Regions from separate parts of the Homo sapiens genome. Here region 2 is linked to region 1. The links come from fine-mapping of genetic effects on gene expression. A gene starts in region 1. The other region holds a variant in brackets. All regions are shown on one strand. Distances are from middle to middle.

Region 1 (16,711 bases):
TTTTTATATCTGAAGTTTAGTTGAACGCCATGGCTGAAGCCCATTATCAACTGAATGACATTTCTTAAATTTCTTAAATGTCATGCATTTACCTGAACCTTTTCATTTCTTAAAGGTGACCTTGGAAAAAGAAGGGCTTTTTTCCTTGTTTAGAGGATTAGGCCAGTTGATTGAGGGTGGGTCCTTCTAGAGCAACATACTTTGCTGATTATTCAAACTGCATGAAAAAGCTGAATGCTATAATGGACTGTGATTCTACCTGGTACATTATTTCAGCTACAGTGGCAGGTTTTACTGTACTTATAGCAACCAACCCCAGTTGACTTAAAGAGACTCAGATATAGCTTGACTACAGGTGGGCACCACCATGCTCAGCTAATTTTTGTGCTTTTTTGTAAAGATGGGGTTTCGCCATATTGCCCAGGCTGGTCTCAAACTCCTGGGCTCAAGCAATCCGCCTGCCTTGGCCTCCCAAAGTGCTGGGATTACAGGCGTGAGCCACCATCCCCAGCCTCAAAGTACTTTTTGCTGAGAATTTGATTCTGTCCTAATTTGCTGAATCATACATCATAGATTCAAGGTGATGTGCTAACAAGGATATCATTTTTAAATGTTGCCATGAAGTTCAAATGCACCTTTTCATACTTTAAATTGATATATGTATATAACCCTTAAACGTTTATGTTCATGATAATTCTGTTGAGACTTCTGGCTAAGGATGTTGCTATACTGGTATATAAAATGTGCACAATTAAACTCCAGTGTGATACTACTCATTTCAGTATATATGAGTGCTGTATTTTGTGCAGTAGCTTTATCTTAATATGGCTCTTTGTGAATGCACTTTATAGCATTTATTGAGGGTGAAAGAGCAGGAGGGAATTCTATGTTACGTATTTCTATAAAAACATTGGTCATTTATTCAACAGAACCAGTATTCCTAACATTTGTCTGGGTTTTAGATATGTTGTTCTGCAGATCTATTCACTGTAGTGATCCCAACATTATTGAAAATTACCAAGCTTTTACTGCTCTCACCAGTGAAAAACTGTACCTTCTTAAATTCTGTCAGCATGTCACATTTATTGTAATCAACAGTAACTGGATGTTTCTGAGGTGTTTTGATTGGACTCAAAAGTATTACAATCAGTTTGGAGACAAAAACACAATCTGCATTTTAGTTTAAGTATGACACTGATGACTTAAAAAAAAACTATATACAAACGTTCTATATAAAGTTTGCCTCCAAAGTATTTCTCTTTCTCTTTCTTTTTTGCAGGGGAGATGGGGTCTCATTCTGTTGCCCAGGCTGGAGTGCAGAGGCACAATCATATTATACTACAACCTCAAACTCCTAGGCTCAGGTGATTCTCCTCTGTCAGCCTTCTGAGTAGCTGGGACTACAGGCATGAGTTATTACGCCTGGCTGCAGAGGGATTTTAATATGTAAAAGTATTAACACAGTGTATTAACTTTGTGCCCACGCAAATCTCTTTTCTATCACATCCTTATGTTCTTCGACAGATTGACTTTTATGCTTCTCCTTTTAGAAACATAAAATTGTTTTATTCTTAGTTTTAAAAAACATTTGAATGTGTACCCTTGCTTATGCGAAGATTTATGACCTACTAGTCATAGCTAAATAGTCAACATTGTAAGAGCTGATACTTTTTGGTTCATGTGAGGTTTGGCATTCTTGCATTTATGTACACGGATGTCAATTGTGTGGACTTCTTCTGTATTTATGTTAACTAGCTTTTACTGAATTGTTGAAACTAAAAAAGTTAAAAACGTGCTTATAAAAAAAGGGGGGGGGGATTATGTCCAAAGAACCCAGGAGCCAGTTTGAAAGGGTGTCACTGGGCAAGTCTGGAAAACTATGAACGTTGTGATAAATAATGATAATGGGTAATAATCTGTTACAGGATAAAACAAGATTTATTTTATTCTGACCTGGAAATGAGAAAAAATATGCCACCTACTATTAATCCATATGATATAAATGAAGAAACAAATGGTGAAAGGGAGAAAGCTCTTCTTTACAGGAGTATGTGATCTAATAAATAAGAATAAAGTTTTTTTAAAAATCACTATTTTGTAACTATTAATCATATCTGATCCAAGAGAAAACTATCAATGACTTCTGAAACTAGCAGGTGAATAATTTGTGAGAAGCACAATATTTATATCCTCTCCAGGTGGACCATAAAATCATGGCTTGCCTCTATTTCTACAGTGCTTTCCCTCTGCCCACAGTGCAGAACCCAAACTTCATAACGTGGTTGCCTTTCCTAGCGTATCTTTTTTTTTCTTTTTGAGACAGAGTCTCTCTCTGTTGCCCCAGCTGGAGCGCAGTGGTTCGATCTCGGATCACTGCAATCTCCGCCTCCCGTGTTCAAGCGATTCTCCTGCTTCAGCCTCCCAAGTAGCTGGGATTATAGGCACGTGCCACCACACCCGGCTAATTTTTGTGATTTTAGTCGGGACGAGGTTTCACCATGTTGGCCAGACTGGTCAAGTGATTTGGCCGCCTCAGCCTCCCAAAGTGCTGGGATTATAAGCATGAGCCACCATGCCCGGCCCCTAGTGTATCTCTGTGTTCCTCCCTTTGCTCACTGACCTCAGCCACAAGGGCCATCCATTATCTCAGAGGTACCAAGGGCTCCCTGCTCAGGTCCTTCACACTCATTGGCTACAACTGGTATTCCCCAGCTACATCACACCTTCCATGTCTCAGCTGAAATGCCTTATCCTTGAAGAGGCCATTGGCCCTACCATGCACCCTGACTGAACCTGTTCTTTTTCTTTCACATATTAGCTCATGTCCAGTGTGTATGATTTCATGTCTATTTTCCCACTGCAGTGTAAGTTCCATGAAAGCAAGGATAATGTCCACCTGCCTCATCAATGTATACTGTGGCATATTCCATGGTGCATAATAAAAGCTTAATAAGTACTTGTTAACTGACTCCAGAATTCAAACAAACCGATACAAATTCCTTTAGAAAAATGGTCAAAGGACAAGATCATGTCCTTTGCAGGGACATGGATGGAGCTGGAAGCCATTATCCTAAGCAAACTAACACAGGAACGGAAAACCAAATACTGCATGTTCTCACTTATAAGTGGGAGCTAAATGAGGACACATGGACACACAGAGCGGGACAACACACATGGGCCTTTCAGAGAATGGAAGGTTGGGCGGAGGGAGAGAATCAGGAACAGTAACTAATGAGTACTAGGCTTAATACCTGGGTGATGAAATAATCTGTAAACAAACCCCCATGACACAAGTTTACCTATTTAACAAACCTGCACTTATACTCCTGAAGTTAAAAAAAATTTTAAATATTAAAATTAAAATTAATAAAAAAAGAAAAATGGTCAAAAGATACAGACATCTTTCCAAAGACAAAATACTTTCCTTAGGAACCACCATATTTGTACTCAGTCTAGCCCTATAATCCAGGTTGAATTTTTAAAGTGTTTCAGGAGGAAGGAGCAGCCACCTTTGTCAAATGCTGCTGACGAGCTGAGGAAAACAACACGTAAGACATAAGCTTTGAAGGTAGCAACCTGCAGGGAAGATCTTCTAAGACAAAGGGCCACTTCCAGCGGACCTGATACCTGCAGTGGCTGCTCCCTTCCCAATGATACCTCACTCACCTGGACACAGGCCTCCAGACACCACTCTCTCCACCATCCAGGGCTCTTTGCCTTGCTCTAGGAAGGAGATCACATCAGGTTTGGAAACGGCAAGACCTGGAGATGAGAAGAAACATGCCACCTGGTTATGGTGTGGGGGCCCCAGAATTCAGATCCAGGACCTGGTCATCAAGCAGGAGAGGCAGTTGCAGGAAGTGCCAGAGGAAGATGGGACAGTTGCCTGGGGGTAGGGGGATGCAGCTTCAGCCGACAGCGCCGCCCTTTAACCCCTCAAAAATGACCAACCAATCATAAGACTGAAAAGCACCCAAAAACTGACCAGGAAGGAACATGCCCAAGGATAACCTCCAAACTAACAGACGAGATCACCTTACCCAGTGAGACCAGGTTGCTGTAGGTCTCCAACATCACGTCTCTGTACAAATCCCTCTGAGCAGGTGCCAACCACTGCCATTCTTCTTGGGAGAAGACTATGGCCACATCCCTGAACAATTCTGACCCCTGGAATGACAGGCATGTATGATATATATGTATTTCAATGGTTCACAGTGGGATGAAAGGAGATGGGGCAGGTCTTTGCGGGAGGGGGGGTTGTTTTGTTGAACAAGAAGGGTGGGACTGAATGTGAAAGGTGACAGAAGAAATGGGGATGAGTAAAACAGAATGATCAAATTGTTCTCAAACATTCCTTTTAACTGCAAATCAATGCTCTGTGTACAGGTCTGGGATGAAAATTAAAATCAAGCTAAATGGAGTTTTCCTTATTGTTAAGAAACAGTGTAATAAAGCACACTGCCCACTCTATACTTGGCATACAATAAATTCTCAAGGTGAGACCTATCACTTCTATCTTTTGGAATAACAATAACAACAAAAAATATTTCTGATGGATTTTCCCCAAATATTTTATTTTTTAAAATTATGGAAACATGTTTTCTATCTTAGATACAGGATTTTCATGTAAGTCAAGAATTTCTTGGAGATGAAAGTTCATCATTATGTTGGAACATAACACAAGCATTTTTCTTCATGGGAAAAACCATGGAGATAACTTTTATTGAGTGCACAATTTTCTATCAAGTGAAACAACTGACTCAAACATCCTCTTATTTTGGATCCCGAGGTTGGATCAGATCTCTAAGGCTTTTCCAAGCCCTGACCACTCACCCACCTAGATGATCATCTCACTTGCTACATCGCTCACCATCCTCAGCTCTGTACTTTTCTTCCTCTTAAGCTAAAGAAACTAATGGAGGATGTCCCAGATTCAAATGCTCTGTCCAACGTCAAACTAGACTTTAATTCTGGCATCAAATTTTTGATGGATTCCCAGCCAAACCTCAATTACATATCCAATCATTAATCATTCCCAAAGCAGGACACTGTACCATGCGCTGAAACTGAAACCAACCAACACCACCTCCCCTGCTTTTCTATATGTGATTGCTCCTAAGCATTCATTCCATCTCTTCAAACTTCAGTTCTTACAAAGGATGCTCTCATTTCATACAGGGAAATGAGTTTCTCCTCCTAGCAGACGAAAACCATCAGGAGATGCAGAATGCTATAGAGAATAAATCTGTGGGCATTTGTCAGAGGGGAGAGGACAATGGGAGAGGAGACTCCTGCCTGGTCCTTTTATTCCCTAAAATGGGAAAGTCTGAGAACCAAATTTCTGGATGGAACCCAGGTGGAAAGTTTCAAGATAAGGAAAGCAAATATTTATGGGATTTAAAAACTCACAAGGGACATGACTTTTAGAATTTCAAGGGCTGATAGGTCCTCCTTCTGGTTCCTCTCTTGGGGAAGGGCAGAGTCCTGCGACGGTAGAGCTGGGGGAGGAAAGAGCAAACATGAGAGGCTAGGCTTGCCTCACAGTTCCTAGAATGCCAAGTTACAAGTCCCCACCTGCTTGCCCTCTGCCCACCAAGAAAATGAGAAGGAGGGGGAGGCAAAGGGATCCTCACCCAACCCCAGGAAACCAGCTTTAGCTGCTGCAAGGCAAAGGGGAACCAGTGGTCCTTTCCCTCCCATTTCCCCTAAACATCCAGTGGTTCTGTTTTGCTGCAAATGCAAGTCTAAGACAGGGATGCTGAGGGCTGTTCTAGTGACTGAGACCCACATGTTACCTCAAGGACAAGGAGGGCTTCCCTCAAGCCAGGGAGCATAGAAGGCCTGCATCATTTGCATAGCCCCAGCCTAGAATAAAGCCTTTCCAGGACTAGGCCATTTAACTCTCTCCTGCAGCAAATATAACACCTTTGAAAGTCTACCTGGCTCTTTTCCCAACCGCCAAATATACAAAAAGCTCTACAGCCCAAACTGAGGCTTTGTGCATGCCACTTCATGGAGCATGCCTTGCATCAACAAATGGGATAGAGTTGGAAGGAACAGTAAGAGACAAATTACACACAGCACGCCCAGTGCTCCATTATCAGCACATAAATGTGTCCTTCCATAGAGACACAGCAGTGCACAAAGCTGCATGTCCAATAATATTTGCTAAATAGGAGAACTGAAAATTAGTACGTAAGTAGGCAAGTCCACAAGTAGCCAAGAGGTTGAATCATTTTTGGCACAGCCATATAATGGGATGCCAAGTGACTATCAAAAATGACTATCAAAAACTGACAAGCAAAGATATTAACTACTGAATCCTTTGAGAACATTCAGCAAAAAGAAGTCAAACTCACTAACACACAGGCTAAAAACAAAACAAAACAAAAAAATTGGAAGAAAAAACACCCAAGTATTCGCAGTGTTGTCATTTAACCAGTTCTTGAGCTCACTGTTAAACAAGAAGTACTCTGTAAAGGAGTATATAAGGTGCCTACTGCATTACAAACATTTGGTTCTAAGTAACGTGTAAGTGAAATAATTATGAATGTTGCTTAATATGATGTAATAGGCAGCTTTTCCTTATTATGACCACTTTTATAAGCATTATTTGTATTAACTGCACGATATCCTATTTACAAAGGATGGCCTGTGATCCACTCAAGTGTTTCCCCATTGCTGGACATAGAATTTGAACATATAAAATGTTCCCAAGTATAAGTTTTTCTAAACTAGCGGTTCTAAGTCTTCTGGGGTCTTGTAACTCTCTGAGAACCTCATGAAACAAGATTTCCTCTCAGATTAAAAAAAAAAAAAGGCACGCATAACAGTGAATGCAAAACATCCGCAATTTCAGGGGGTCGGAGACCCCTGCGCACCCACCTAAGGGGTCCATGCACCTGGGCTATGAGGCTGGAAGCAGAAAGGGGGCGCCAGAAAGCGCACGCCGCGAGGGCCGGCGGGAAATGTAGTCTCACGCCGGTAAAGCCACAGAGCGACGATGAGGCGAGACGTCTGCGTTCTTCTCAGGCCTGAGACCCAACCGGCCCGGGCACCAGCTCCTGCTGGACCCCAGAGCGCCTGGAAAGCTCCGGAACCTCTCACCTGCCGCCTCCTCGGGTCCAAGTGCCACCGCGGCCGCGCCCCCGGCAGCCCAGGGCGCGCTTCCACCACGGTACCGGTGGATTCGCCGTGCGCAGCCGGAAGATGGCGCAGACGCACAAAGCACACCGATGCTGCGCCATGATAGGGCCGGCGCCGCAGTGTCTTCCGGGAAACATAGTCTTTAGGCGTAAAGGCAGCAGCCCGGCCTTGAAGCCGGATCTCGCGATGTTTCAGGGTGAGCCGGACGCAGGCGTGCCTGCGCAGTGCGCGGAGGAGTGCTGTTCGTGTGTTCGAGTCCCTGGGTTGCTTCCTGGGGTCTGTGGTGCTGGGTGTGCTATCTGCGTGTGATTCTCTAGCGAGAGATTGTGGGCGAGTGACCGAGTGGGCAAGGGGCCGTCACTGTGTGTGCGTGATTTTGACAGTGTGTGGTGGTAGCTTCTGACTCCGCGTGGGTCGTTGAATGTATGACTGGGACCGTTTAGCGGTGGATACACAACTGTGTGCGGCTGTGGAAGATTGCCTCATCCGTTACGTTCCCATTTCCGTGGAACAACAGTTTTACCAGAAGGTTTCGAAGGAACCTTAAAGTTTGGAAGCGTAAGAGTTTATCTGGTAACTAATTTTAAACATTACATCTATGGTGAGTTAAATGTGGGTTATGAAGGAGAACGCAAAATAAAAACGTTATAAAGATGTAAAGGAGTTTTATGGGGCGGCATCTCTTGGGCAAATATCAGACCGCCGTAGGTAGTTGTTAATTCTCTCTTGTTTTTAGGCGGCTTTGGTGTCATCAAATGTGAGAAGCCCTGGACTTTACACATCCCGAGCCAGTGTGATCCAGTATGATTGGGAGTCCGAGTGCCAGATGCCGGTCAGGACCTGTTATGCTGGGTCTCAGAATGCGGAAACTCTCCCTGTCCGAGGTGGAACAGTTTGTCCTTGAGTGAGGACTGGAGTCCTGAGTGACTCTTTTGATTTGATCCTGTTTCCCTCAAACCTGGTGAGCTCTATGGTGTAATAAATGGTTAAGAGTGTGAACCCTTAACCATCTCTAAGACTGGAGCCAGAATGCCTGAACTCCAGTCTTAGAGATGTGCCTCGGTCTCCACATTTGAAAGTGAGGATGATTGTGGCATCTAATTCATTGAGTTGTTGGGGAGGAGTAACTGATATGTAAAATAATGCTACTGCTGCTGGATAAGGATGCTAATATGACTGAAGCTAATGCTTTCTTTCTGCAAAGATGCTTTTTCCAAAACACACCATATTGCCTCTTTACACATTCTTCAGGAGAGGGTAGAGGCTGCATTTTCCTTGTAGGTGCGGTGATGTGGTGGAAAGCACACTTTTAGAATTAGACAGATGTGGATTCAAATAGCATTTCAGCCATTTATTAGTTTCTTCGTGCCTATCTCGGTTTTGTTTTGTTTTTTTTTTTTTGTCCATAAAAGGAAGAATGTAATGCTGGGCTTGCAGCTTTGTCCTGAGGGTCAAATAAAATGATTTAATAATATAAGCAAAGCTCAGAGGTTGGTTATTGCTGATTACTGATATTAAAAGACAACTTCAGCAAGGATGGTTGAATTTCACACTTGTGAGCGGACAGTTGAGGAGACAGTTGTAGATTTATCCTACTTGACCTTATTTGTGGTTCAAGACAGTGTTGCGAGTTCAAGAGGAGAGGGTAGATGCAAAAAGTCATCATCTTTCCTATGTTCTCTGATCTTGGGAAGGGGCGAGTGGCTCTAGTTTCCCTTTAACATCCCACTGTGTTGAGTGTGTCTATATGTACATGCGTCAGTATTTGCTTATGGAGGAAAGGAAGGAAAAAGACCAAACAGGTACAAAGCCAGCCATCTCTCAGGCTAACTTTCTTCTATACCATTTTTACTTTCTCACATTCATTAATCTGCCAAAGAGAAATTTAGAGGATGATGAAATGGCCACTTCTGACTCTGAACCAAGCCTCTGAAGTCATACACCATTATACTCTTGGTCACAAAATCAGCTGTGAGTCTAAGTAGGTGGAGGCTACACAAGAGTATAAGTACTAGGAGGCAGGGATCATTCAGGGTCGTCTTAGAGGGTGGCTTCCAGTTTCTTCCTTTTAAGAGTATGAGAATGCTCTGAGCTAGCCTCTCCATTCCATGGAATCCATAGGTCTTTTGTCAGCCACTTCCCAGTACACATTCCTGTGCCAAAGCACATGCAGAGTTTGTAGGGTCCAGCCCCACAGGGTCGGTTGGTTTCTCCCCGTGTGCGGAGACGAGAGATTGTAGAAATAAAGACGCAAGACAGAGATAAAAGAAAAGACAGCTGGGCCCAGGGGACCACTACCACCAAGACGCGGAGACTGGTAGTGGCCCCGAATGCCAGGCTGCGCTGATATTTATTGGATACAAGACAAAGGGGCAGGATAAGGAGTGTGAGCCATCTCCAATGATAGGTAAGGCCACATGGGTCACATGTCCACTGGACAGGGGGCCCTTTCCTGCCTGGCAGCCGAGGCAGAGAGAGAGAGGAGAAAGAGAGAGAGAGCTTACACCATTATTTCTACTTATTAGAGACTTAGTACTTTCACTGGTTTGCTACTGCTAACTAAACGGCAGAGCCAGGTGTACAGGATGGAACATGAAGGTGGACTAGGAGCGTGACCACTGAAGCACAGCATCACAGGGAGACGGTTAGGCCTCCGGATAACTGCAGGTGGGCCTGAGGCCCTCCACAAGTGGTGGAGGAGTAGAGTCTTCTCTAAACTCCCCCGGGGAAAGGGAGACTCCCTTTCCCGGTCCGCTACGTAGCAGGTGTTTTTCCTTGACACTAACACTACTGCTAGACCACGGTCCGCTTGGCAACGGGCATCTTCCCAGATGCTGGCATCACCGCTAGACCAAGGAGCCCTCTGGTGGCCCTGTCTGGGCATAACAGAAGGCTCGCACTCTTGTCTTCTGGTCACTTCTCACTATGTCTCCTCAGCTCCTATCTCTATATGGCCTGGCTTTTCCCAGGTTATGATTATAGAGTGAGGATTATTATAATTTGGAATAAAGAGTAATTGCTACCAACTAATGATTAATGATATTCATATATAATCATATCTAAGATCTATATCTGGTATAACTATTCTTGTTTTATATTTTATTATACTGGAACAGCTCGTGTCCTCGGTCTCTTGCCTTGGCACCTGGGTGGCTTGCCGCCCACAGAGTTACTCCAGCAGCTCCCTCTCCTGTTATCCCCAGCCATATCCGTGCTTCTGCCAGATTCCTTCTGTTTCAGGATCACCCATTATCACTTGAATGAGATCAACTGTGGGGAGGTGGGCCATATTCTGTTGTGCATAGTAATCCAAGCAAGGAATCACACAACAAAGTGGGTTCTAACCCAATCTTAGCTACTTACTCCCTGAGTGACCTTGGGCACCTCCCCCAATTTTTCTGACCTAAAATCTGTGCATTATAATAATAATAAATTTCCACGGAGGAAGTATAACCTTTTCAACAAACAGTGCTGGAGCAACTGGACATCCATAGCCAAAAAAGAAAAAGGATAAAAGGCTTTTCTGCAGTACTAATCCAGGAGAAAAATAAATGTATTGCATCTTCCTTGTGACAACTGAGGACAAAATACATGTGGCCTCTCTCTGAGGACTTTTTTTTTTAAGAGACAAGGTCTCACTCTGTCACCCAAGCTGGTGTGCAGTGGTGTTCCTGGACTGAACTGAAGGTCAGGCTGCTTATTCTCGCAGCCCTATAACAAGATGCTGATGAACTGTGAAAGAAGAGAGTTTTATTTCTGTAACCGGGTACAGGGAGAGGGCCAGAAAAATATTGCCAGACCAACTCAAAATTACAAAGTTTTCCAGTGCTTATCTACCTTCTAAGCTATATGTCTACATGTTAGTGTGCATTCATCTAAAGACACAAGTGATTAATTTCTTCTAATCTATAACTAAGGTCTGAGTTATAGACCTTGGGGACATTCCTCTGGAGCCTCAGTGATTTTACTTACTCTAGATGGGTCCAAGTGCCAAAGGTAATTACCTTATCTTGTCTCCTACTAAGTTATGGAGGTCTGGAGAGTTCCTTTAGACCCCCAATAAAACTTGTTTAATCCTAAATGGATCCTGGTATGAGGAGTGTGACCATTCCTTCATTATTTTGTCATGCTTCAAATCATCAGCCTTTGTGTTAGGGCGCTGGCTCTCTCAGCCTTTAATATTTAACCTAACCATTTAGTCAATGCTAGAACAGTTCTTATGGAGGCCTGCCTGTTCAGTTTTTGTGAGATCTGGCTTGCCACAGTGGCACAAACGGCTTACTGCAGCCTCAACTTCCTGGGCTTAAGCGATCCTCCTACCTCAGCCTCCCAAGTAGCTGAGAACACAGGTGCGTACCACCACACCAGCTAATTTTTCTTTTCTTTTTTTTTTTCTGTAGAGATGGGAGCCTCACTGTATTGCCCAGGCTGGTCTTGAACTCCGGAGCTCAAGTGATCGTCTTGCTTCAGCCTTGCAAAATGATGGTGAAGCTGCATCATTGTCTGGGGTAAATACCTGAGGTTCGTTGTCTCACGCCAAGGGAATCAAGGACGTGGACACACAAGAAGTGAGTTTAAGAGCGGAGGTTTAATAGGCGAAAGAGAAAAGAGAATAGCTCTAGCTCCTGCAGAGAGAAAAGGGCTCCCAAGTAGGACTTCCAGTCCGTGGCGAAGGGCACGGGGTTTATAGACTGGCTTCAGGAGGTGGTGTCTGATTTACGTAGGCCCCAAAGATTGGTTGGACCAGGTGTGCCAATCAGAAGCTGGCTGCCCCACCCTAATCTTTTATTATGCAGATGGAGTCCCTGTCTGACCGGGCCATGTTGTATGTTCCTTGCTGTACACGTGGTTGACAAAGAAAAGGGAAGATGGAGCTGCGATGTTGGACATGCCTGGCCCCCAGGTAGCTTTTTCCTATTGGCACAGCTGCTGGCATTCACCCGTGCAAACTTCCAGCTTGCTTATCTATGTCTGCAGCTTGATTTTTCAGGCTGCTGTTTGTTAGAAAAGAAATGACTTGGGGGCTGCTTTTCATTAAAAGGAAAACCTTACCGGGGATTTCCTTACCCTCACTATCTGCCTAAATAATTTCTTTTTAACTCCTATGTCACTTGGGATTACAGGCATGAGCCGCTGTGCCTGCTAGAGGGTTTTTTATCTTTATTCCTCAAGATTTTGCATTTAGATAATTATGTTAAACTTGGGTGTGCTAGGTAGACATACGTCTGCTGATTACCTGTTTAGGAAGAATGTGGATTCGTACGTAGGGAAAAGGAGTCAGGCTGGTGGGACCAGGGGAAAGCAAAGAGATAAAGCAAATAAGCTATAGATCTGCATTTTCTTCATGGTCCAGGATATATAAACAAAAAAAGGAAGCAGATAAGCTATAGGCTTGCTTTTCTTTATGACCCAGGACATACAGCCCTGCCGAGCAAATAATGAACGTAACTCACAAACTTCCTGCTTATCATCAAACGCACGCATCCACTTATCATCAAACACCTCGGGTGACAGAAGAATGCAGGTCAGCTCCCTGCTGCCTTGGCATTATCAATCAGCCCAGGAACCATCCTATAAAATCTCCAGCAAGCCTTTGTTTCCTTGCAGTCAGCTCCTCTTCCACTGATTCTGCCTGTTGCTCCCTGATAACATACTTTGATACTGTCTTTAATAAATCTGCCTTTCTTCACCCACAGCTGTCTTGGTAAGTTCTTTTACCTCTGTGCCACCAGCCCAAACAGTTGCTGCTCACCTGAAACAAAGAATAAATGTGGTTTTTAAGCAAATCAAAGTTTACTTAGTGACTCTTACCAAGCTTTGTAGAAGGTTGTGCCAAAAGGAGAAGCTTAAGAGATAACGGCTAAAAATAAAAAATGTTACCACCGCCCAAGGGGTTCTTCCTGCCCACTGCATAAAGAAAGACCATGGCATTGTAGTAGAGAAAGAGGTTAATAGACATGAGGCTGGCCACGCCACATGGGAAATGGAGTTCGTACTCAAATCATCTAATCCAAAGCTCTTATCTTAGAGGTTTTTCAAAGTCACTTTGGGGGAAGGGGTGGGAGTGGCCAGATAACAGGTGCTTGCTGCTGATTCGTTGGGCTGGAGATGAAATCATAGGGGGTCAAAGCTCTCCTTGTGTGGGGTGAATTGCTTCTGGGTGGTGCCACAGGAACTGGGTTGGTTAGTCCAAGTGGAACCATCAGGTCCAGGTGGAGCCATGGGTGTCAGACATGAAAAAACCTGAAAAGATATCTCAAAAGGCCAATCTGAGGTTCTACAGTAGTGATGTCATTTGTAGTAGTAATTGGGAAAGTTGCATATCCTATAACCTTTGGAATAATGGCTGACAGTTGAATAATGCTGCCACCTTAGCAGGACCCAGACTCCTCTCCTCCCAGACTGATGGCCTCCCATTAGCTTTACAAAAACAATTGAGTTTTGGGCAAAGCCTGTTATTTAAACTATAGCGTAAATGTCTTCCAAAGTTAGCTCAGCCCTATAGCCCAGGAATAATTAAGGGAAAGGCAAGATAGGTGGGTTAGCTCAGTTTACTATAATAATTTTTCTCACTGATACAGTTTTTGCAAAGGTGGTTTCATAAAGATGCCTACTCTCTTCACACATTTGTGAAATGTCGAAAAGACTGCAAAAACCTGGACGTTTACTGATGCCTTATTTTAAACAAGGCTTGTCTGGTTTGAAAAAGTGAGGGGAAGCTATCAATCATAATTTTGTTAAATACAGTGAGTTCTAAGTTTCTCCTCAAAGAATCTGTGTCAGTATGTTCAGTTCTTTGTTTTCCATTTTAAAGTTTAACTTCCTCATTCTCTTCATCTCCTTGCCCCTAGTTTCAGTAAACAACCTCCCTGCCAGTTCTGATCAGTAGTTCACATCTGTTCTCCTGGTCACTTGCTCCATCCTGAGACCCCTGGTCACCCGCTCTAACCTAAGTCACCTTTAGTCACCTATTCCGTAACCGTCTTTCCTGCCACAACTGCTCACCCCACCACTGTAGCTCTTAACCCCTGCTGTCTTTAAAATAGCCAATCGGAATTAGCTTAGACTGTGCAGTCCAACCCTAGCCAATAGGGGAACGATGCAACAGTAGGGGCTACCTGTGTCAGGGATAAGAACCCCTTCCCCTCCCTTGTTCAGGTGTGCTCTCACCATTGTTCCATCCACAAGATGCACCCTTCTGTAGAAGTAAAATTGCCTTGCTGAGAAAATTTCTGTTCGAATGCTATTTCTTTTGTGGCACCGAAAATTTATTTCTAACAATTTCAACACTCAAACACAACCCAACTACAATTTTTGTGGATTATGTTCCTTTTACTTTTTAGGAACAGTTTTCCAATGTTGCAGTCATAATGCAATTTTATCAGCTTTGTTCCTCCTTTAAGAAACCTTAATACAAGAAGTATTTTTACATGTTGCTTCATTGCCATGCAATTATTCGTTTAAAAAGTTGTATAGTTTTCAATCAGATAGATGTGAAAGGAAAATAAATCCCAGGACTCCGGTTGGGCACAGTGGCTCATGCCTGTGATTCCAGCACTTTGGGAGGCCGAGGCGGGTGGATCACGAGGTCAGGAGATCGAGACCAGCCTGGCCAACATGGTAAACCCCGTCTCTACTAAAGATTAAAAAAAAAAAATTAAGTGGGTGTGGTGGTGTGCACCTGTAATACCAGCTACTCTACTCGGGAGGCTGAGGCAGGAGAATAGCTTGAACCCGGGAGGCGGAGGCTGCAGTGAGCAGAGATCACACCATTGCACTCCAGCCTGGGCAACAGGGCGAGACTCTGTCTCAAAAAAAAAAAAAAAATCTAAGGACTCCAAAATCACTAAGCCAAGGGAAAGTCAAGCTGGGAACTATGTCAGGCAAGGCTGCCTCTCATTTGATTCCTAAATACAATAGCTATAAAGATTAAAAGCTACATACCTCCCTCACAATTTGCCCACAAGGAAATTCCTTTTGGACAAAGGACAGAAAGAATTCAAAGTCATCCCTCTGAGGCTCACCTGAGAGAAATGCATATCTGATTGCTTCCTTGGACCTAGTGTTTATGTAAAAATGCAAATTCACAGAGCCAGACTAAATTGTGTATTCAGTGGAAAGCTAATCAATAACTCAAAAGAATGCAACCTTTTGTCCCACATCTATTTATGACCTGGAAGCCTCCACCTCAGATTTTTCCACCTTACCTGACTGAACCACTGTACATCTTACACATAGTGATTGATGTCTCATATCTCCCTAAGATGTATAAAAGCAAGCTGTACCCCAACCACCTTGGGCACATGTCATCAGAACGTCCTGAGACTGTCAGTGCTTCCCTAACCATGGGAAAATAAACTTTCCAAATCGATTGAGACCTGTCTCCAATACCTTTTGGTTTACAACATACTGTTATTTATTTGACCATTCTTCTACTTGTAGCTGTGGAGTCCTGATAAGTAAGCAACAATGAGGAAGGGGCCCCAGTGGGGAAGTACAATGAACAGTTGTCCTGAGAAATGGCTAATCAAACAACAGCTCTCTCCAGGATGACCCTATAAAACTTCCTTCCAGCTCCTGCCTCTTTGCAGACAGCTCCTTCTCTCCTGTGCTGCCAGTTGCAACCTTGCAATGTATTTTCATACGTTCTCTAATAAATCTGCCTTTCTTTAGGACTGTCCTGGTAAATATGAGACTGTTTTCTTTACCGCCTTTGATACAAGCCCTATCTAGTTGCTACCCATGACAGTAGGTATATTGTTTATGTTCAACATTTTATTATAAACAATGTTTCAGCTGGGCTCGGTGGCTCATGCCTGTAATCCCAGCACTTTGGGAGGCTGAGGCAGACAGATCAGGAGGTCAGGAGATTGAGACCATCCTGGCTAACAGGTGAAACCCCGTCTCTACTAAAAATACAAAAAAATTAGCCAGGCGTGGTGGCACGTGCCTGTAGTCCCAGCTACTCGGGAGGCTGAGGCAGGAGAATGGCATGAACCTGGGAGGTGGAGCTTGCAGTGAGCTGAGATTGCGCCACTGCACTCCAGCCTGGGTGACAGAGCAAGACTCCGTCTCAAAAAAAAGTTTCAGTTAGTATTTTTTGCTGATATCATAGTTGCGTTTGTTTAATTTCCTCAAATAAAATTCCCAGCTTATATGATGCTCTTTGTCACTGGCAACTTTGGTCAGACAATTAAATGAAGCAATTGAAGGGCACAACAGGATTTTGGAAGGGATGGTACAGGATTGGGAGATAAACTAGAGATAGGAGTTTATAAAATATTTTCAAAGACAGATTGAAGAATAGGAATAAGAGTATGATATTGTGAAATATATATTTGATCTTCCTAGCATAGAACTTCTAAAATCCTTAGAAACTACAAAGTAACAGTAAAAACTCATTTTGTATGCTAATGAGTTGACAGCTGGCAACCCCTATAGAGTTTCAGGATGGGGACTGGTTATGGAAAGACCAAGACATGACTAGAAGGTTGGGACATTCAACCCCACCCCCAACCCTAAGGAGGGGACGGGATTTTAATCAACCATGCCTATGTAATGAAGC
Region 2 (16,711 bases), 600 kb before region 1:
TTTATAACCTGAAATATGGTCATTTCTGCAGTTTAGTTTTTTTTGAGCACCTATAATACTGAAGGAAAAATATCCCTGGCATCATGGAGCTCATGTTCTAGTGGAAGGAATTAGATAATAGAATAAATACATTATACATTTGAAGGTGAGAAGAGCCCTGGGGAGGAAAAATAAAGAGAATAAGCAATTTGGAAAATTTGTAATGTTTATGGGTTTTTCTATGCATCTGAAAGTTTGACTCAATATCCATATTTATGAAAAAATTATCACTTAGAGATGACAAGGGAAAACAACTCATAGTAGGGTCTCCAGCATAGAGTCTGTGATCTCATTTAATCTTTAAGAGTTCTGAGATAATTATCACCATTTTCCATTTGAGAAAAATTGGACATGAGTGGGAAATGAGTTGCCCCTCCTGTATTTTATTAATGGGTCATCCGGATGCTTATACTTAGTCTCTAATTGAATGCTCAGTAACCTGAATATGATTTTCCTTTAAATAAGGCAGGTAGAAACAGAATGCTAGATATTGCCAGAGCTTTCTACACACGTGACAGTGTGAATGGAAGCTGATAGGCAGCTTCTAAATGGCTTCTAACAATCCTCACCTTGTATCAATCACACTCTTGTATCATCTTTGCCTCTAGCATAAGCAAGACCTGTGATTTGCTTCCTTTGAGATGGAGTCTTGCTCTGTCACCCAGGCTGGAGTGCAATGGTGCGATCTCGGCTCACTGCAAACTCCGCCTCCCAGGTTCAAGTGATTCTCGTGCCTCAGCCTCCCGAGTAGCTGGGATTACAGGTATGCATCACTACGCCCGGCTAACTTTTGTATTTTTAGTAGAAATGGGTTTTCACCATGTTGGCCAGGCTGGTCTCAAACTTCCGACCTCAAGTGATCCACCCGCCTTAGCCTTCCAAAGTGCTGGAATTACAGGCATGAACCACAGCACCTGGCCAAATTTGCTTCTATCCAATAGGCAAATATGGTGAGATGTCACTTTTTTGGTGAGCCTACATAGAATTGCTACTTCTGCCTTGCTAACAAACTCTATTGCCTTGAAAAACCTGACAAACAGTTGCTGTTTGAGAGTTGGAGAGCAAGTCTTTTCAGTGTTTCTTGCTGATAACTGAGGGCCTCTTCCAGCCAACAGCTCTCAAGGTACTAAGACCCTTAGCCCAACAGCACTACAGGAACTGAATTCTGCCAACAACCACATGATCTTAGAAGCAGGCTGATTTTTCCTTTCCCAGACATACCTTCAGATTTGACCCTAGCCCTGGATGACATCTTGGCTGCAGCCTCATGAGAGATCTCAAGGACGACCAACTAAGCTGGGATTGGAGTCCTGACACTCACATAGACTGTAAGATAGTGTGTCATTGAATCCAAGTTGGTGGTAACATACTTGGCAACAGTTAGGTAACACAGAAAGGAAGAGAACTTTTGCTTTTATGAGAGGAATCTAATGGATTTGGAAACATGAAATAGACTGAGAATTGCCTATTTTTATTCTCTCGTAATGAGGGGTACATCCAAATGGAGGAAAGAAAATAGAAAATATTCGTAGAACCCTTTTTGGTCTACGTCAAGTATAATATCAACTGTCATCTTTTACTCACCATTGAGTACATCCTCTGCTTTAAGAACGAGGCATACATTTTCAATCTCCCAAGAGGAAAGACTTTTTTTTTTTTTTTGTATTGGAAACTGGCAAGAGGGTTTCTCATCATCATCTTATAGGTCCTAGACCATCTCAACACAGAATTTTCCCCATCACAGCCAGGCGCGGTGGCTCACGCCTATAATCCCAGCACTTCGGGAGGCCAAGGTGGACAGATCATGAGGTCAGGAGATTGAGACCACCCTGGCCAACATGGTGAAACCCCGTCTCTACTAAAAATAGAAAAAATTAGCCAGGTGTGGTGGTGGGTGCCTGTAGTCCCAGCTACTCAGGAGGCTGAGGAAGGAGAATCGCTTGAAGCTGGGAGGCTGATGTTGCAATGAGCCAAGATCACGCCACTGCACTCCAGCCTGGGCAACAGAGTGAGACTCTGTCTCTCAAAAAAAAAAAAAAAAAAAAAAAAAAAAGAATTTTCCCCATCACCAAGGAAAATAAGCAACTTACCCAACTACCTTAAGTACACAATCTGGGCTGATCAAGCTCTCAAGAAGTTTTGCAACTCCATCATTGCCCAAGTGATTTTGAAGCAAGTTGAGTCTTTCTAGTGTTTTGTTGGTGGTAAGAACAGAGGCAAGAGATCGACAGCAGGCACTGGTTAACATGCACTCTTCTAGCCTGCAACGAAGATGCACAGGTAAGGTGGGGCCAAATCCTTGAGGAAAAATGGCAGATGAGATGGGTGAGAACTGGACATCTACTAGATCCCTCCAAGTTTTGGGCAAAAGAACTGACTGTGCAATAAGAGTCCCATTTCAAACACTAGACTATTATGTCCGAGGTATTGTATTTCCCAATCCACTTCCTCTTGTGCTTTTCTTCAGCTGTTGCTAGCTAAAGGCAGGGATCTTTCTCCACCAGGCACCTACCCAATATTCACCAACATGCAGTTGGGATGTCTCAAACCACCACATAGCAGCTGCATTCCTGCATCTTCTATTTTGTTGCTCCCAATCTCCAGGCTCCTCAGTTTTTCATTAGTAGCAATAACTATGGCAATATATTGACAGATATCGCTGCTAAAGAAACAGCCAGACAGACTGCAAAACAGAAACATGAGCTAGAGTCATGACCACCTGTCTCCAAAGATTTATTTCACAGAGTGTTAAGCATTCTTGGACCCGTCTTGTGACATTCATGAATAAGGGACTGCTTACAGAAACAAGAGCAGTGTTAACATCTACAGGTCACTTACAACATACCAGGCATTGTTCAAAACTCCTAATGCACATTAAACTCACAATGATCACAGGGCTCTTATCCTGGTTTTACAAACAAGGAAACTGAGGCCAGAATGTTTTAAGCATTTTTGTCCCGGGAAGCCACATACATTCAACCTACACCGTTGCAATACTGAGCTTGGATTCTGAAGAATTATGTTAGGCAACCTCCTCTGACATTCACGTTTCTGCCTTTCAGTACTCATGTCAAAATCCAACATCGAGAAGGGCTAAATACATTCTTTCTATAAAGAGGATTTTACCAAATGGTCCTTTCTCAAAGCAAGCAACGTACTCACGATTGTCCGTGTTCTCCCATGTGACCTGCCACCTTGTTTTTCCATTCACGTCTCCCCCATTATCTACTCCTACAATCCTACTTCATTGCCTCACCACGTTGGCCTTCGTGTTGATTCTCGAGCACAGTTGGCTGTTTCTCTGTTAACAGCTCTGCACCGACTATTCATTCTGCTTGCAAGCGCCACTCTAGTGATCTGTATGACTCCATCCACAACCTTCTCCAAGTCTTTGCTCAAATGTCCCCTTGTCAATGAGGTGACATTGACCTTGCTTAGAGATGGCCATACCCTACCCTCAGCACTCCTGATTACGTGCCCTTAGGATTGAATTAAAAAAGTTTCCATAGCAGTTTTTACTGCCTGATACAGGAGTTGACGGCCTTTCTCTATAAGGGGCCAGATAATAGTTTAGGCTTCACCGGCCATGGTGCCTCTGTCACAACTACTCAGTTTTGCCACTGCAGCACAAATGCATGCATGAAACACATGTAGATGAATGGCTGTGTTCCAGTAAGATCTTTATAAAACCAGGCAGAGGGCCAGATTTGGCGCCTGGGTGATACAGTTTGCTGACCTCTGGTCTAACAATACATAAGTTTCTTATGTTTTATTTCCTATCTCCCCCAGTGCCAATACAAGATCCATTAATACATGGATATTTATTCTGTTCACTGATGTATCCCAGCCACCTAGAGGAGTGCCTGACACTTAACATATATTCTTTGTTATAGAATGTATATTAAATACTGAATAATCATATTAAAGCAGATTCCAGAAGATCCTATTTTTCATTTAGTAGTTATAAAAGTTGGGTGGTGCATTCCTGTAGTCCTAGCTACTCAGGAGGCTGAGACAGAAGGATCACTTGAGCCCAGCAGTCTGAGACTGGCCCGGGCAATATAGCAAAACCCTGTCGGTAAAATATATAGAGAGTTAATGATGTGCCAACCACATCCATGCTTTCAAACTTAGAGGAAAATAAAGGGTGATCAATAATGTGGGCTTCCATGTGCCCTATGGGAGCTCATAGAGGAGGTCCCTATCCAGCTTTGGGTAGGTGATAGACAAAATGGACAGTTATACTTAAGACAATTCTTGAAGGATGACAAAAGAACGTGTTTGGAGTCTACAGCAAGGTTCAAACTATGGTCTGAGAGCCAAATCTAGACAACTTTGTTTTTTATTTATAAAGTTTTATTGGAACATAGCCACACCCATTTGACATTTTTCATGGCCTCTCTTCAGCTATGGGAGACTTAAAAATAGTTATGACAGGGACATTATGGCCCACAAAGCCCAGAGTATTTACTGTCTAGCCTGTTATAGAAAAAGGTTTCTAACCCCTATTCTACAGTATGAGTGAATTTGTCTCAACCTACTAAGTACAAACTAAGGGCCATGAAAAAAAGGGAGGGTGAGTTATATTATTTTCCCCAAGGCAGCTTTCCCTAAACTGCCTTGTCAAAGGAAGCAAGATTCTAGAAAGAAAAGATATCCCTACAATTTCCTATTTTACCTGCCCATTTGTACCAAATTACAATGGTAACATGGATTTAACTTATAACTACAAGACAGAAATAAAGATAAGATACCATACTGCTGAGCATATTCTTATACAGTCCAGTAAGCACTTCAGTTCAGGAGCTCACAAGCCATAGTGTTGCTATTTTATGAACAGGAGATGCTTTTAGGTTATCAGTTTCTTATATTTCTGAGCCCAAAAAAAGGCATTTGAAATAGAACATTTTCAAGAGAGTTCAAATTAAACAACTCCAAGGCATTTTTTAAACAATTTTTTTTTCAGGCAAGTGGGAGAATCACTACTTCTGAGAAAATACGAGAAGTTTGATTATTCAGCATCATTGATGAGGCACACTCAAAAAACTGTAGTGGCTTGTTACATATTTTTTCCTGGAAGTTCAATCAGAGGCCATTGCATCATGCCTAAATTAGATGTCTTTGGTAGGTACCAGTGGCTTGGATATGGCCACCTCCCCCAATGCATCCCTTTTCCAATAAAGCTATTTCCCAACAGAAAGATGCCCCCATGATCGCCAACCCCAAAAGATATTCACTGCCTCAGAAATTGCAAGCCAGGCCAGGGCAGGATCTTTGGGTCCCTTCTCCTGTGGCATTTTCCCATGCTATGTCCACCCGGGGCAGGGGGAGGGGTCCGGCCCAGGCACCCTTCTCCATGTGATAAGGATCTGAGGGATTTTGTGAACTCTGCTCCTTCTGAGCTAAAAGGTTTTGCCAATGAATCTTACCGTGCTTTCATGTCGCCTATTCTGGGGAGCCCATGCTCCCGTACCCCTATCACCCATGATGCCATCACTGGAATCTTATCCCTGCCACCAACCCCACCACCCAAGCCCTCATGCAGTAGAAACACAGTCATCCAGGACAACTGTGGGAGACTTACTGAAGCTCCTCTAACTGACAGGTTGGAAACAGCAAGGGAAACGTCACATGCAACACTCCGTAATTTTTTAAGCGATTCACACACAGGTCTAGTTGTCTTAGAGTTGGGCTGAACAGAAGCACTCTTCCAAGGGCGCTGCAGCAATTTTCAGTGAGACAGCAGAAGACTAACCTGCACACAGAGAAGAGTGAGTCAGTGACAGTGTGAGCACCAGAGAGGGGAGCACCTGAGACCACCCACCCCACGCCCACGGGCGCCTCGATGCCTTCTACTGCCATTGCCCCAAATCTCTACCAATGACTTTCTTATTTGGAAAAGGAGATTAGAAGTACCCCAAATAGTGCAGAGGCTGAAATACAGAATGGATGATGCAGAACAGGGCATGAGAAAAATCTAACTCCAACTTCTACTAACGGAATAATCTTATAGACGTTACTTCTGGAACTTGGTTTCTCCCATCGTTTGATAAAGTATATTTGGCTAAATTGAATCCTAGGATTTTCAGTTTAAAAACTCACTTTGAAAGAGTTACTTTATTATTTATAAGTGAATACAGGAACTGTTGAAGATTTTTTTAAACTGGGAAAAAGTGGAGACAGACGGCACACCAGAAGCCCTGTTGTTAGCCCATTTTGTGGTATCCCGTTTTGTCTGTCCAGGTTTAGCTCGTTGCCAATATGTGGAAGTTTACTCAATCCTAATCTGGATTTCCAGCCTCTATTTTTTTTTCCATTATTTATTTTTAAATAATTTTTAAAAATAGAGATGGGGGTCTCACTGTGTTGCCCAGGCTGGTCTTGAACTCCTGGGCTCAAGTGATCCGCCTGCCTTGGCCTCCCAAAGTGCCGGAATTATAGGCGTGAGCCACCACACCCGGCCGAATCTCTATTTTTTTTAACCCGTTTTCTGTTTGCCCTGGGAATACTGCACTGGCAGTGAGCTGCACTTTTTTCCTAAACAGGGAAGGGGTTAAAAAGTTGGAAATAGGCCGGGCACGGTGGTTCACACCTGTAATCCTGGCACCTTGGGAGGGGGAGACAGGAAGATCACCTGAGTTCAGGACTTCGAGACTAGCCTGGTCAACATGGTGAAACCCCGTCTCTGCTAAAAATACAAAAATTAGCCGGCATAGTGGTGTGCACCTGTAGTCCCAACTACTTGGGAGGCTGAGGCAGGAGAACTGCCTGAACCGGAGAGGTGGAGGTTGAAGTGAGCCGAGATTGCACCACTGCACTCCAGCCTGGGTGACTGTCTCCAAAAAAAAAAAAAAAAAAAAAAAAAAAAAAAGTTGAAAACAACCAATTTATTGGTTGGAAATACTGAATCTTGGCTCTGGTATGGGAAAAGGGTACACTAGACCAGAGGCTGGCAGCACACCAAACCTGGCCCCTCCCTGCTTTTGCACAGCTGCAAGCTTAGAATGATTTTTGTGCTTTAAAATGATCGGAAAATGTATATGTAGTTATTTTAATTTGGGTTTGACACGTGAAATGGGCTAGGTTTTCCTTTGTATACTAATGCGTGCTTATTTTAAATTATATGTACAAGTAAAAGTTAAGACTAAGAATGAGCTAGAGAAGTTCCCTGTTGTCCTCGTAGAAACCAGCACTATCAACTCATTTGCATACTATTTTCCAGCTGTCAGATTTGGTCACGACCATAAATTTGGCCTTTTACAGGTGTTTTCCTCAGACTACTGTGATTTCTTTCACGTTCTTAGGCTTAGAAATTCCTTGCCTATTTAAAATAAGTTACCAAAACAAATATTTTTTGCTTAGTATATCTGGATTATTTTAAATACAGGTATGAACTACGAAAAACTCCATGCCAACAATCTAAGGTGATAAAAATGTTCTAAAATTATATTGTAGTGTTGTACAACTCTAAATATGCATAAAAAACATCGAATGTGTACCTTAAGTGGATGAATTTTCTGATATGTAAATTATACCTGGAACCAGTGGGAAAAGAAAAAAAGAAAAAATCTAGCAGGAAACAAAAAACTTGTAGATATGAGATGAAAAAAATATCTATTTGGAGTCTGATTATTGAACCAATGGTCTGTCCCTTTTTTCATGAGACCTTCTTTTACAACAAAATTAGCTCATATTGACAATTACTTACTGGATTTATCTGGGGCCACATGGATCTTAGAACAATTTGAGATTTTAAAGACATGGCTGGACACAGTGGCTCACATCTGTAATCCCAGCACCTTGGGAGGCTGAAGTGGGTGGATCACGAGGTCAGGAGATCGAGACCATCCTGGCTGACACGGTGAAACCCCGTCTCTACTAAAAATACAAAAAATTAGCCAGGCGTGGTGGCGGGTGCCTGTGGTCCCAGCTACTCGGGAGGCTGAGGCAGGAGAATGGCGTGAACCCGGGAGGCGGAGCTTGCAGTGAGCCGAGATCGCGCCACCGCACTCCAGCCTGGGCAATACAGCGAGACTCCGTCTCAAAAAAAAAAAATAAATAAAAGCATACATAATGCGATATTACATAATATGAACAGGAGTTTCTGGTGTTATCCTGCAATCAAACAAGTATTTTTTACAGAAAATATAAAGAATATAAAGAATATTATATCAGTTTGTATTATGTTTTGGAATCTAGCAAGTCCTAAAAAGGGGGC[G/A]AAAGGAGCTAAAGGGAGCCAAAAATGGGCGAAACAAAAAAACAAGATGACCTACTGCATTCTTTTGTCTTTTTGGAATTTGGAATTGTGAACGGGGAATCATGTCCTTAAATACACCGAGCTACTTACTGTTTTGTTTTCTGACCATGTTTTACAGATCTCCGCCCTTCATTTTTGTACCTTTATGCCTCACTTTTGCCACTTTTTTGCCATCTTTCATCGTGTTTGCCATGCCCCAACCTTCCGGAAGTCTGCCTTTCTAGCCACTTTCCCAGAGCAGACAGAGCTTACCTACGAGTAACCCACAGTCGGTTACATACAGGGAGAGCCCGTCTTCCACCTTCTTGAAAGGAGACTCAGGGGAAAAAATCCTATTTCAAGGCAATCTAGCACCAAACCTTTCCTTTGCTTTCGTCTTTGTGTTCTCAGTCACATCTCATCCTACACGACACCCAGTTCACGTGTTCACTGTGAGAACAATATAGGTTCCCTGCTCTTAGAAAGTCAGTTGCTATGGCCTAGGTGCTGTGTTTAGAATGTTGTGACCACCATTTTTTATTTTTTATTTTTTTTGAGACAGAGCCTCGCTCTGTCACCCAGGCTGGAGTGCAGTGGCACAATCTCGGTTCACTGCAACCTCCGCCTCCCGGGTTCAAGCAAGTCTCTTGCCTCAGCCTCTCAAGCAGCTGGGACTACAGGTACCCGCCACCACGCCCGGCTAATTTTTGTATTTTTAGTAGAGACAGGGTTTCACTGTGTTGGCCAGGCTGGTCTTGAACTCCTGACCTTGTGATCCGCCTGCCTCGGCCTCCCAAAGTACTGGAATTACAGGCGTGAGCCACCGCGTCCGGCCGTGACCACCATTTTTAACTCTTATCTCCAAAGATGTATGTTTGGTCATGTTATGACTCCACTGTCCAGATTGAGAAATACAAGTTGAAAAAAAATCCAGAAACATTTTTGCCAACGTTTCGCAAATCAGCTGTCAACCCAGAGTATTAACCCAGACCTACTGAACTCCAAAGACTGTGCTTTCGGCTGCTTTGCTTTGCTGTCCCTTTCCCCACCACTGCTCTTTGATCATGTGCTTAGATATTCAAGTCAGTCTGAGCTTCTACGTGGTGAGCTCGTCTAAGCCAACTTACACCAGTGATATAAGAGTGCAGTTGGGATGAAGCAAGGCATCACACAGTATGTTCATCCCGTCGCTCCTCAGCGGATTGCTGGATAAGGTCAGTTTTCTCAGACTCCCGCCACTGATGAGGAGAGAGGCGATTTCTTCACATTCGCTGGCTCGCAAATCACATTTCATCAAGCTGTAAGAGGAATTCAGAAATGAAAAGAGGCTCCCGCGTTTAAGCTATCCCCTCTTTTAAATTAAAAAAAAAAAAAAAGAGAGACCTAACCAAGTGCGATGATGTCTACTTGGAAATAAATAGATCCCTTTGCTTCTAACCTTTCTTCTCCCTATGCCACTCCTCAGAGTTCAAATTTGGGCAAGGTTACAGATTCACGAAGGGCTGTGAGCAGGCAGTTCCTTCCTCTTTTGCATTCATCTCCATGTGGTTTCCAGGGTGATGGTTCAGAACGGTAAGTCAGGTATCAAGCATCCCACCTGACCATGGGATGTGGGTACGATCACATTTATAAATCTGATCAAGACCCTCAACTTACCATCACATTTACAAGGACTTCTGATGTTTTTTCTGCATAGCCTTGGGTGCCCCACATGCTCTGGCTCTCAACTATCTCTATTTTCTTTTTTTTTTTGAGATGGAGTCTTGCTCTGTCGCCCAGGCTGGAGTGCAATGGTGCGATCTCGGCTCACTGCAACCTCTGCCTCCCGGGTTTTTAAGCGATTCTCCTGCCTCGGCCTCCCGAGTAGCTGGGATTACAGGCATGCGTTACCACACCCGGCTAATGTTTGTATTTTTAGTAGACACCAGGTTTCACCATGTTGGCCAGGCTGGTCTTGAACTCCCGGCCTCAGGGGATCCACCCGCCTCGGCCTCCCAAAGTGCTGCGATTACAGGCATGAGCCACTGTGTCCGGTCTAACTTTCTATTCATTACTCATTCTGTACCATCCTCCCTGATCTCCTCACTCTCCCTCAAGTCCACAAGCATATTTTTGCTTTAGTGTCTAGTACCCTTATCTCTACTTAGTGATTTTCCCCATGGGACCCTATTTTTTAAAAAAAGTTTTTTTCCTTAAATTATCCAGGAGTGGTGGTGCACGACTATAGTCCCAGCTACTTGGGAGACTGAGGTGGGCGGATCACTTGAACTCAGGAGTTCGAGGCTGCAGTGAGCTATGATCATACCAATGCACTTCAGCCTGGACAACTGAGCAAGACGCATCTCTAAAAAAAAATAAATAAAATAAGTAGAATAAAAATAAGTGATCTTTCCCCAGATAGCTGCATGGTTTGCTGTCTCACTTTCTTCAACTTGTCACTCAATATTCTCTTCTTCAATGAGGATTTTGAATAATAACCATCTTTCAACTAACAAATATTGTTATTTTCAGGCATTGTATGAAGTTCCTGGGATACAGCAGAAAACTGGAAGAAATACGATGGAATTCTAGCATTGTAAAGACAGGGCTGAATGTATCATGTGCCTAGTAGATGATCAGTTCTTTATAGAAAGTAAATCAGAGTAGGTCATAGAGAAAGAAAAGGATGTATTCTACTTCCTTATGGGGCAGGCACTGAGCGAAGACTCTCACTGAGCCATCGTACTTGGCCTGTGTATTCTATTTTGAATGAAATGGAAGCCCTTGAGGGTTTGAAGATTAGAGGACAGAAGAGTCAGAAGCTCTGACTTAAATAAGGTAGAAGAATTTTAACAGAAACTTGAGAGAAGAGGGCAAGCTCTGAATCTCTAGGACAAGGGAATTTCTGTCAGAGGAAATGAGTGGAAAGAGTCAGAAGCAGGAGCAGGTTTGGTGTTTTAAACATCTACAACAAACAGTGCAGCCGCAGCACGGTACATAAACAGGAGATGGGGAGAGGGTTAGCCAGGGCCACCCAGCGTGAAATGGTGTATTCTATATTATTATTATTTTTTTTTTTTTTGAGATGGAGTTTTGCCCTTGTCACCCAGGCTGGTGGAGTGCAATGGTGTGATCTCGGCTCACCGCAACCTCCGCCTCCCAGGTTCAAGTGATTCTCCTGCCTGAGACTCCCGAGTAGCTGGGATTACAGGCATGCGCCATCATACTTGGATAATTTTGCATTTTTAGTAGAGACGAGGTTTCGCCATGTTGGTCAGGCTGTCTGGAACGCCTTACCTCAGGTGATCTGCCCGCCTCGGCCTCCCAAAGTGTTGGGATTCCAGGCGTGAGCCGTCGCGTTGGCCTGTGTATTCTATTTGGAATGAAAGTGAAAGCCGTTGAGGGCCTGAAGATTAAAAGGACAGAGTCACAAGATCTGACTTAGATTGCCATTATCCTTAGCAAACTAACATAAGGACAGAAAACCAAATACCACATGTTCTCACTTACAGATGGGAGCTAAATGATGAGAACACATGGACACATAGAGGGGAACAATACACACTGGGGCCGACTTGAGGGCTGAGATTCAGAGGATAGGATCAGAAAAAATAAAAATATCTATGAGGTACTAGGCTTAGTACGTGGGTGATGAAATAATCTGCACTAACTCCCATGACACAAGTTTACCTGTGTAACAAACCTGAACACGCATCCCTGAAGCTAAAAGTAAACTAAAAAGAGTTAAGTCTACCCTTGTAGTAAAACTGATATATCAAAAAATAAAGCTATGTTTTGCTTCAAACACACACACACACACTCACACACACACACACACCGGAAAACAAAACAATCCAAACTAGATGAAAGTTGCCCTTCTACACTCTTTTCCATGTAGCAAGCAAAGGTGTGGACAGGTAGGAAGATGCTGAAGTACTGCAGATAGGTGGGAGATGGGTTGGTCTATCATGCTTAGCAGTAAAGGAAGCAGGAAGGAGTCAGATGGATCCACTCTAACAACAGACCTAGAAAATTTGTCTAAGCCAGGCCACAAGAAAATCTGTATTTGAAATGCCTATTTAAATATCAAAGTAAGAGGCTGAGGTGGGCAGATCACGTGAGGTCAGGAGTTTGAGACCAGCCTAGCTGACATGGCAAAACCCTGTCTCTACCAAAAATATAAAAGTTAGCTGGGTGTGGTGGTGTACCCCTGTGGTCCCAGCTACTTGGGAGGGTGAGGCATGAAAATTGCTTGAACCCGGGAGGCAGAGGTTGAAGTGAGCCGAGATCACCCCACTGGACTCCAGCCTAGGTGACAGCAAGACTTTGTCTCATAAATAAATATCAAAGTTGATATCTCTACAAATACTTCACTGAGTCTGAAACCAGGAGAAATGTTTGTAAATAAGTACCTAAGAGTCTTCATCACATAGAGGCTACTTAATGCCATGAATAAGAACTCATAGAAGGGGTATAGAAAAGACATTTAGAACCACTTGGAAATATCCCAAAGATAAGAGTCCAGGAAGATGAAAAACAAGTAAAGATGACTGAGGAGGAATAATCAAGGTTTGGGAAAAACCAAAGGCCAAGAGGAAAATGTGTTCCAAGATGAAAGGAGTTTGGGGAGGGGGGCATTGAGGTAGGGGAGAGGCTAACTACAAAGTGGCAACAGAGTTGGGATTTAGCTGGGAGAATGTGATAGGGAGAAGGGATGCTGAGTGAGGTGGAAGGCAATGACTCTCAAGAACCATGGAATTTGAACTATGTCAGAAAGAAAGTGAGGGGCTGGGTGCAGTGGCTTCCAGCACTTTGGGAGGCTGAGGTGGGTGGGAGACCAGCCTGGCCAACATGGTGAAACCCCATCTCTACTAAAAACACAAAAATTAGCCATACGTGGTGGCAAGCTCTTGTAATGCCAGCTACTCGGGAGGCTGAGGCAGGAGAATCGCTTAAACCCGGGAGGCGGAGGTTTTAGTGAGCTGAGATCACACCACTGCACTCCAGCCAGGGCAAAAAGAGTGAAACTCTGTCTCAAAACAAAAATGAAAACAAAAACAAAAAGAAAGGGATGAAGGGGGTGAAAGGGTGGGAAGCTGCTGCTCAAATGGCTGAAGGACGCAGTAGGATTAAAGGGTGGGAAGATTTGCTTACAAGACAAAGCAGCTTGAGAATACAGGAGGTGCCGTTAGAGCATGAGGTACTTGAAATTGAGAGTACAAGCGAAATGTACTTATTGGAGATGAAGTCTAGCAAGTGGTATTATCCAATATTGAGTCACCAGCAAGTAGAGCTACTGAGCACTCAAAGCGTGGCTAGCATGACTGAGGCACTGGATTGTTAGTTTTACTACATTTACATTGGAATTTATTATTCATTTATTTATTTATTGAGATGGAGTTTTGCTCTTGTTGCCCAGGCTGGAACGTGCAGCGGCGCCATCTCAGCTCACTGCAACATCTGCCTCCTGGGTTCAAGCGATTATCTTGCTTCACCCTCTCGCATAGCTGGGATTACAGGCACCTGCTACCATGCCTGGCTAATTTTTGTATTTTTAGTAGAGGTAGAGTTTCACTATGTTGGCCAGGCTGGTCTCGAACTCTTGAATTCCTGACCTCAAGTGATCCACATCCTCTGCCTCCCAAAGCGCTGGGATTATAGGCATGAGCTACCAGGCTTGGCTAGTTTAAATTTAAAGGTTGATTCCAAATTATTGGAAGATTTAAGTATGTTTAGGACACGGGCATGTGAATTAGTTCTCTCAATTGTAAATTTTATGAAATCAATACGGAGGTCAAACATTTCTGATGAAAATGTGCCCGAGCGGCGATGTTCTCTGTGAAATACTGGGTTCTGCAGCCTTTTACAAAAAAGGGAATATAAAATCACATCAATAGCTTTTTGCATTAATGACATATGGATATAATTTGATATGCTGGGTTAAATACTGTTAAAATTAGTTTCAAGGCTGGGCACAGTGGCTCACACCTGTAATCTCAGCACTTTGGGAGGCTGAGGCCTGTGGATCACCTGAGGTTGGGAGTTTGAGACAAGCCTGACCAACATGGAGAAACCCTGTCTCTACTAAATATACAAAATTAGCTGGGCATGGTGGCACATACCTGAAATCCCAGCTACTTGGGAGGCTGAGGCAAAAGAATCACTTGAACCTGGAAGTCAGAGGTTGCGGTGAGCTGAGACTGTGCCACTGCACTCTAGCCTGGGCAACAAGGGCGAAACTCCATCTCAAAAAAAAAAAAAAAATTAGTTTCACTTGCTTCCTTTTACTTTTTAATGTGGCTACTGGAAAATTTCAGTTTGTGGCTTGAATAATTTCCACTAGACAGTGTTTTAGGGTTTGACCAGTAGTCTACTTCAGAATGACCAGAGGAATTAGATCATTAGAGAAATATCAGTCAAGGGAGGGAGAAGCCATGTTATATGAAATATCAATGTAGAAATTGAAATCAAAAGGCAGGAATAATGTTGGTGAAAGAAACAAACCACGTGCTAAAAAAATTGAGGAATGAGTGACATCAAAAGGTAGGAGCAGGTAGTGTTATTGAAGGGGCACCTCTATCCACCAACACCCAGGCATTCCCCTCACATGCACTGAGCTTTCAGCCGAGCAACAACTCACCTCAGATGACTTATTTGGCATGTGGGCTCGTGCAGGATGTCATGCAGAAGTGAAAACATATTTAGGGAAATGGACGTACAGTTGATACTCAGGTATGTCAGGCTCCGATTACGAGCCAAAGCCTTGAGTAAGTCTTCAAAACCAGAAGCAGTCGAGACATAGGACAACCTGTGGAAGACATAATAGCAGGAAAGCACTAGTGAAGGTCTGAACATCTTCTCCACAATTTCTCCTGCCTGCCTCACTTCATCCTGTAACAAAGATTCTCAGTGGATTACATCCTCACACATGGCTCTCGATCTTAAATTTCTAGTCAGGTCAGAAGACTATTGCTAATTCCAAGGTCAGCCTGTTGACTTTGAAGTAATCCCCTGGGTCTTTATGGTGTGTTCACCTCATGACCTTTCTTAAGTGGGACCCACAAGCCGGATACTAAGAATACATCCACATGCACAAAGATATTAAGATACATCCACATGCACAAGTTTAACCATGTTTTTCTACACTGAGAGCAAAAGACAAAATATGCTGATGGCTGATAATAGCCACACAATCAACCACATGTAAATTACTCCGTTTCAGCAGTCCCAGCCAGAGCAATCAGGCAAGAGGAAGAAATAAATGGCATCCAAATAGGAAGAGAAGAAGTCAAACTATCACTGTTTGCAGATGACATGATTCCATATCCAGAAAACCCCATAGTCTCAGCCCCAAATCTTCAGCTGATAAACTGCAAAAGTTTCAGGATACAAAAAGAAAAAAATAAAATCAATGTACAAAAATCACTAGCATTCCTATACACCAACGACAGCCAAGCTGAGAGCCAAATCGGAAATGTAATTCTATCCACAATTGCTCACAAAGAATACCTAGGAATACAGCTAACCAGAGAGGTGAAAGATCAAAAGGAGAATTACAAAACACTGCTCAAAGAGATCAGATGACACAAACAAATGGAAAAAACATTCCATGCTCATGGAGAGAAGAATCAATATTGTTAAAATGGCCATACTGCCCAAAGCAATTTACAGATTCAATGCTATTCCTATGAAATTACCAATGGCATTCTTCACAGAAACTAGAAGAACTATTTAAAGTTCATATAGAACAAAAAAAGAGCCCCAATACCCAAGACAATCAATCCTAAGCAAAAAGAACAAAGCTGGAGGCATCACGCTACCTGATTTCCAACTATACTATAGGGCTATGATAACCAAAACAGCATGGTACTGGTACAAAAACAGACACATAGACCAACAGAACAGAATAGAGAACCCAGAAATGAGGCCACACAACTACAACCGTCTGATCTTCAACAAAGCTGACAAAGACAAGCAGTGGAGAAAAGACTCCCTTTTCAATAAATGGTGCTGGGGTAACTGGCTAGTCATATGCAGAAGACTGAAACTGAATGCCTTCTTCACACCACATACAAAAACCAACTCAAGATGGATTACAGACAAAATGAAGTGCAAAACTATTAAAAACTTGGAGGCGCTGGGCACAGTGACTCATGCCTGTAATCCCAGCACTTTGGGAGACTCAGATGGGCAGATCACAAGGTCAGGAGTTCAAGACCAGCCTGGCCAACATAGTGAAACCCTGCCTCTACTAAAAACACAAAAATTAGCTGGGCGTGGTGGCGGGTGCCTGTAGTCTCAACTACTTGGGAGGCTGAGGCAGGAGAAGCACTTGAACCTGGGAGGCGGAGGTTGCAGTGAGCCGAGATCATGCCACTGTACTGGGGAACAGAGCAAGATTCCGTTATAAAAACAAAAACAAACAAAACAAAACAAAAACTAGGCAATACCATTCTG

The links. PIP is the estimated chance that this variant, and not a neighbour inherited with it, causes the effect.
Region 2: its variant is the best candidate, but not a certain one, in a credible set for the expression of ZNF582-DT in kidney cortex (GTEx, PIP 0.72).

What each region holds. Positions count from the first base shown.
Region 1 is chr19:56,386,335-56,403,045 of GRCh38, forward strand. It overlaps ZNF582-DT (ZNF582 divergent transcript), which reads left to right and starts at 7,342. Exons shown (of 2, transcript NR_037160.1): 1 at 7,342-7,719; 2 at 11,547-12,841. It overlaps ZNF582 (zinc finger protein 582), which reads right to left and starts at 7,200. Exons shown (of 5, transcript NM_001320371.4): 1 at 6,886-7,200; 2 at 5,410-5,498; 3 at 4,041-4,167; 4 at 3,667-3,762. The coding sequence starts at 5,418. It also overlaps the pseudogene SLC25A36P1.
Region 2 is chr19:55,786,678-55,803,388 of GRCh38, forward strand. NLRP11 (NLR family pyrin domain containing 11) reads right to left here. Exons shown (of 10, transcript NM_001394894.2): 5 at 14,895-15,062; 6 at 9,403-9,573; 7 at 5,624-5,794; 8 at 2,552-2,722; 9 at 2,130-2,300. Among named protein-coding and RNA genes, the nearest start is that of RFPL4AL1, 26 kb to the left of the region's middle. The variant G/A (reference allele first, on the strand shown) is at 8,258.